Homo sapiens: one gene and its partner. The protein of the gene in region 1 interacts with the protein of each later gene in a pairwise test. Each region holds a gene or a part of one and is shown in the gene's direction. Other genes may lie near its edges.

What was found. The genes of interacting proteins can lie anywhere in the genome.
Region 2: the proteins of EBP (region 1) and SFXN3 interact in binary tests that used the Homo sapiens proteins (3 or more experiments, as listed by UniProt).

What each region holds. Positions count from the first base shown.
Region 1 is NC_000023.11:48,527,012-48,529,372, forward strand, and holds the end of EBP (3-beta-hydroxysteroid-Delta(8),Delta(7)-isomerase), read left to right. Parts: coding exon 1-14; intron 15-143; coding exon 144-274; intron 275-1,222; coding exon 1,223-1,446; 3' UTR 1,447-1,705; downstream 1,706-2,361. UniProt on the Homo sapiens protein: Isomerase that catalyzes the conversion of Delta(8)-sterols to their corresponding Delta(7)-isomers a catalytic step in the postlanosterol biosynthesis of cholesterol.
Region 2 is NC_000010.11:101,037,726-101,041,381, forward strand, and holds the end of SFXN3 (sideroflexin-3), read left to right. Parts: coding exon of another isoform or gene 1-48; exon of another isoform or gene 49-645; intron 646-917; coding exon 918-967; intron 968-1,449; coding exon 1,450-1,497; intron 1,498-1,763; coding exon 1,764-1,860; 3' UTR 1,861-3,516; downstream 3,517-3,656. UniProt on the Homo sapiens protein: Mitochondrial serine transporter that mediates transport of serine into mitochondria, an important step of the one-carbon metabolism pathway.

The sequences.
Region 1 (2,361 bases):
AGCCGATACATCCTGTAAGTGTTTGCCTCTGTCAATGGAGACTGGCATTGGTTTTCGGGGGGTGGTGAGTTGGGGAGCACTAATGGGCTAACCTGTAGGAAGAGCACACCGATACCAGTGTCCCCTCATGCTTTCTCCTGCAGGGGTGACAACTTCACAGTGTGCATGGAAACCATCACAGCTTGCCTGTGGGGACCACTCAGCCTGTGGGTGGTGATCGCCTTTCTCCGCCAGCATCCCCTCCGCTTCATTCTACAGCTTGTGGTCTCTGTGGGTAAGGAAAGGGCACTAGAGGGGCACTGGGCACTAGAGGGGTTGATGGGGGATCCACAGACACAGATGTATCCCTGTGGGTGGGATCTCTCAACGGTGCCCTTCCAGGGGTAAGTCAGACTGAATGACAAACCCCCTGAGGCTCTGGAAAGGTCATGCCCTTCTCTGAGCCTGCACTCTCAGGTGGGGAGGGTTCATTTTTCTTCCTCCTCCTCCTTCTCCATCACAAAGTCTCCTGTGAAGGTTACATGAGGTGGCCCAGGGTGGCAAGAAGCCCCTGGAACCTCCAGGATCAGGGCTCTGAGATCCCTTCATGTAAGATTCTGTCATATTTTTTTTAAAACAGGGTCTGGCTCTGTCACCCAGGCCAGAGTGCTATGGTGTGATCTCGGCTCACTGCAACCTCCACCTCCCAGACTCAAGCGATCTTCCTGCCTCAGTCTCCTGAGTAGCTGGGACTACAGGCATGTGCCACCGTGCCTGGCTAACTTTTGTATTTTTAGTAGAGATGGGGTTTCGCCATGTTGCCCAGGCTGGTCTCAAGCTCCTGAGCTCAAACAGTCCTCCTGGCTTGGCCTCCCGAAGTACTGGGATTACAGGTGTGAGCCACTGTGCCCGGCCTCAGTCATCTTGTGTTATTAAATTGTTAGCTTTCTTTAGTTCTAGCGATATGAGTTATCTTTAGTCCCAGAATCCTAAGCTGTCTTGGATTTGAGGATTTTGAACTTCCTTAAATCTGAAGGTGTGAGCTCTCCTGAGTTCTGAAATTCTCAGCTCTCTGGTGTCTGGAATCTCACTTTTCTGATTTCTCAGATTTTCAGCTCTGTGATTTCAGAATACTTAGCTCTGAGACCTTGAATGATGACTTGGAAAGTGCTTTGGAATAGAGAATTGGCGAAAGTGTCCCCTTCCTCACTGGGGCTTCTCCTTCCCCTCCTGCCACCCACAGGCCAGATCTATGGGGATGTGCTCTACTTCCTGACAGAGCACCGCGACGGATTCCAGCACGGAGAGCTGGGCCACCCTCTCTACTTCTGGTTTTACTTTGTCTTCATGAATGCCCTGTGGCTGGTGCTGCCTGGAGTCCTTGTGCTTGATGCTGTGAAGCACCTCACTCATGCCCAGAGCACGCTGGATGCCAAGGCCACAAAAGCCAAGAGCAAGAAGAACTGAGGAGTGGTGGACCAGGCTCGAACACTGGCCGAGGAGGAGCTCTCTGCCTGCCAGAAGAGTCTAGTCCTGCTCCCACAGTTTGGAGGGACAAAGCTAATTGATCTGTCACACTCAGGCTCATGGGCAGGCACAAGAAGGGGAATAAAGGGGCTGTGTGAAGGCACTGCTGGGAGCCATTAGAACACAGATACAAGAGAAGCCAGGAGGTCTATGATGGTGACGATTTTTAAAATCAGGAAATAAAAGATCTTGACTCTAACACTGAGAGATCCTTAATTACTAACCCCAGAGATGCGCTATGACTGACCCCACAGATCCCACCATCATTCACTTATTCCAGACCCCCATCAGCATCTAAAGACCTCCCACCTCTGACCTCACAAACCCCTATCACTGACCCCCCGCCAGACCCCATAACTCACTACACAGACCCTATCACTGGCCCCACAGTCCCCTGGTCTTAACTCGAGCTGCCATAACAGAATGCCACAGACTAGGCTTAAACCACCGAAGTTCATTTTCTCACAGTTCTGGAGTCCAAGATCAAGGTGTCAGCAGGTTTGACTTCTCCTGAGGCCCCTGTCCGTAGCTTGCAGGTGGCCACCTTCTCAGTGTCCTCACATGGTCTCTATGAACTAGCGTCCCTGTCCCTGGTGTCTCTCTGTGTGTCCAAATTTCCTTTTTTTTTTTTTTTTTTTGAGACAGGGCCTCGCTCTGTGTCAGGCTGGAGTGCAGTGGTATGATCATGGTTCACTGCAGCCTCTACCTCCCTGGCTCCAGCGATCCTCCTGCCTCAGCCTCCTAAGTAGCTGGGACTACAGGTGTGCACTACCACACATGGCTATATTTATTTTTTTTTATAGCAATGGACTCTCACTATGTTGCCCAGGCTGGTCTCAAACACCTGGGCTCAAG
Region 2 (3,656 bases), on another chromosome or scaffold:
ATTCTTTTACCCCCTAGTGCCTCCATACTGAGAGGTACACACGGGTGAACACGCACACACAGACATGAACAGGACACGAAAGCAAAGCACAGGAACAAGCTCTGGCTCATTCACAGAATCATTTATTCACAAATGTATTGAGTGCCATGCACCAGGCATGTTTTAGGGCTGAGGAGATGGCACTGAACACAATGGTTATGGCCCCTGTCCTCATGAAGTTTATAGTCTGATGCAGAAACCAATAAACAAGGAGGCACCCAATAAATACATTCTTAGAAAGTGTAATATGTGCTTTGTAGGAAAGCAATGGGGGTAGTGTAATTGAGATTCATGGGGGAGAGCTGTTTAGATAGGATGATCAGAGAAGGGGTCTTTAATGCCGCAAAGGATGAGGAGAGAGCCAAATAACGCAGAGAAGAGTGTTTGGGGTACAGAAAACAGTCAGTGCAAGGGCACTGCAGTAGGAGGGGCTTGCACATTTGAGGAACAGGTTGGTGGTCCCTGTGGCCAGAGCAAATTGAGAAGAGTGCCGAGGAAGAGATGTGCTTGGAAAGGGTCAGATTCATGCCACTGGGATGGGAAGAGGTAAGTGGAGGTTCACAGGAGGTTTCCTGAAGAAATCAGCTCCTGGAGGAAGTGAGGGAAGAAAAAAAAGGGCCAGGGAGTGCCATGGCAACCAATTCTGAGAGGTGAGAGGTCATGGGATGCCGGGGAGGGTGATCAGCAGACAGGCCTGGCTGGAGTGGAAGGGCGTGATCTGGAGGTCCCAGCCCTGTCATTGCCTTGGGAGAAAGAAAACGGCCACAGGTCTAAGGGCTCCAAGGCAAGGCTGATGGGATAGAGCTATGGTGGGTGAAATGGGGTGACAGTGAGGCAGGGGACACAAGCCGTTCCATTGTCTTTCTGTCTCTCCACAGCGCCGCCCCTGGCTGGGGGCACCCCTGCAGGTGGGACTGGTGGGCTTCTGGTAAGTGTGCAAGGAGTTAGCTGGGGTGTGTGGGAGTGCCTTGTCCATGGTGGATGTGGGTGGGTATGGATTGTCTTTAAGATGTTTATAGACATCATCCATTCATACATTCAGTGGGTGTGTGTTTGGAACAACTATAGGGTCTACTTTGTGTGTTACGGGGTGGTCCCTGTCCTTGAAGGTCAAGATCCTAGTGAGGGGGTTCCAGTCTTCATCTATAAGAGGAAACCATGGAAATGTACCTTTTGGTGCCATCCAGGAGATTCATGCCCATTTAATTCCTGATTCTGCCACTTACTGGTTGTGGGGCTCTCTTTCCTCAGAACCTGATGTCCAGGTTGGGTTTACTATTCCTAAAAGGTCCTTTCAGCTTTTATCAATCTCCACCCCTAGGGCCTATCTCCAAGGATGGGGTGGGGTGCAGGGAGGGAACACCCTAAGGCCAAAGCTTTACAAACCTTTCCAACACTTGTCTCCCCCAGCCTGGTATTTGCAACCCCCCTGTGCTGTGCCCTATTCCCCCAGAAGAGGTAAGTGCTGTCCCTGGGCTGGGTGGGGGACTCTGGATTGGACTCTGCATCTCTGGACCAGCTGACCTAGGGTCTTCCAGGGTGTTCAGGAGGAGGCCTGGCAGGCACTCCACTGATTCTGGGAGTGGGGGAATGACAGTGAGCCAGTCCTTCTGGCAGTAGAAGGAGAGGATTTTTCAGCCTGGGAGGAGGTGGGATGGCAATCCCTGGGCCTGAGTGGGGTTGGATTCAGGGGACGTTAACTGGCCTGTGCTGTTCTATTGCAGCTCCATACACATAAGCAACCTGGAACCAGAGCTGAGAGCTCAGATCCATGAGCAAAACCCCAGCGTTGAAGTGGTCTACTACAACAAGGGGCTTTGAGGAGGGTCAGCCTCTGTCCCCTCCCTCACTTCCTTGGGCTGCTGCTTTAGTGGAGTCATGTCACCCCTACCACTTGGCTATCTGCCTAGCACTGGGCAGGGGCCTTGGTGGGCAGATGGCAATTGAGGGTAGCAACCTATTAGGGTGGGGGAGGGACCTCCATAAGGCTTTTCCTCCCTTCTCTGGTTTCAAAGATCAGAGCACATAACCCCTCCTGTGCTTGAGTGTCCATGCATATACATACATGATACACATGTGTATGTGTACATTGGGTCCTGAAAGCTAGAAGCAGGCATGCTAGCCTAGTATGTTCTGACATCTGGCTTCCCTTCTCAGCCTCATGTCCACCTGCCTGCCAGCCAGGCTACAGGTGTGACTTCCTTCTCTAAACTGTTACACCAGCCAAGTTATTTTTGATGGCACCTCATCCCTTCTAGAAATAGGAGGAGCCCCAGGATCTCAGGACAGAGACTTATAGACACTAGTAGGACAAAGCGGGCTGAATCCTTCAGGTTTCTGATACCTAGCTCCCCAAGCTGACTGGGCTGGCAGAGGAGAACATGTTGAGACAAGGGAGGCAGGGGACTTATGCATCCCTCAGTGCCATCCCTTGTATCCTGGAATAGCTCCATTTCCCCTCCTCCTCTCTACCAGACAAAGGAGTGCCTGTGTCCTGTACTGCCCTCGCTGTCTCCCCCACCACCCTACTTGACAGCGTGGGCATCTTCAGGCACAGCCTTGGGAGTTCCTGGTGTGCTCTGACATCATGACCTCAAATCTAAATCCTCCAATCCCAACTCCCTTTCCCAAACAAAAAGCCACAGAGGCAGAGCAAGCATTCCCCTTTAAGAGCTTCCACTGCACCCCCTCCCAAGGGACACAGCGGTAGGAATGGTGCTTAAACTCCACAGGTATCAGAGAGGGTGTAACTAGGACATCCTCAAGGGCAGCTAGGCCCCGAATGTACAATGTTAAGACAGGGAATTTTGTGTTCCATTGACTTTTTTTTTTTTTTTTAATGGAGTTTCACTATTTTGCCCAGGCTGGAGTGCGATGGTGCGATCTTGGCTCACTGCAACCTCTGCCTCCTGGGTTCAAGTGATTCTCTTGCCTCAGTCTCCCGAGTAGTGGAAATTACAGGTGTGTGCTACCACATCTTGCTAGTTTTGTATTTTTAGCAGAGATGGGGGTTTCACCATGTTGGCCAGGCTAGTCTCGAACTCCTGACCTCAGGTGATCCACCTGCCTTGGCCTCCCAAAGCACTGGGATTACAAGCATGAGCCACTGTGCCCAGCCTGTTCCACTGACATTTCTTAGACATTCAGCAAAACCCCCACCTTAACCTCTTTTCTTTCTTGAGGGTTGGTCCTGTCCCCACCTCCACCCTCCCACCCCCTGGAAGAGGAAGGGCCCGGGCATCAGTGGCTAGTCCAAATAAAATATGGGCTTGGGGATGGAATGGGTGGTGGTAAGTTCACAGAGTGTAGTTAGATCCCAACTCCCATGACCTCTGGCTTCAGTGGTGGGTGGGGCAGGGCAGATGAAAGGGCTTCAGTGGGAACCTCTGAGAGCATTTTCCTGTTCCCCCTATCAACCGCCCCCAGTGATAACATCTGTGAAGCCAGCCATTACTCAATAAACTGCAAACTTGTCTACTTCTTGGTCTTCACTTGATTCCACGTCCTGAGGGCCCAGAAAGAGTCCCCTGCTTGCAGCCTTCCGTCTCTCCCTGGACTCTCCCCAAGTCCAGGTCTTGTCTCATTCCTCCCCCTGTGTAGGGAGCCTCATGCCCCAG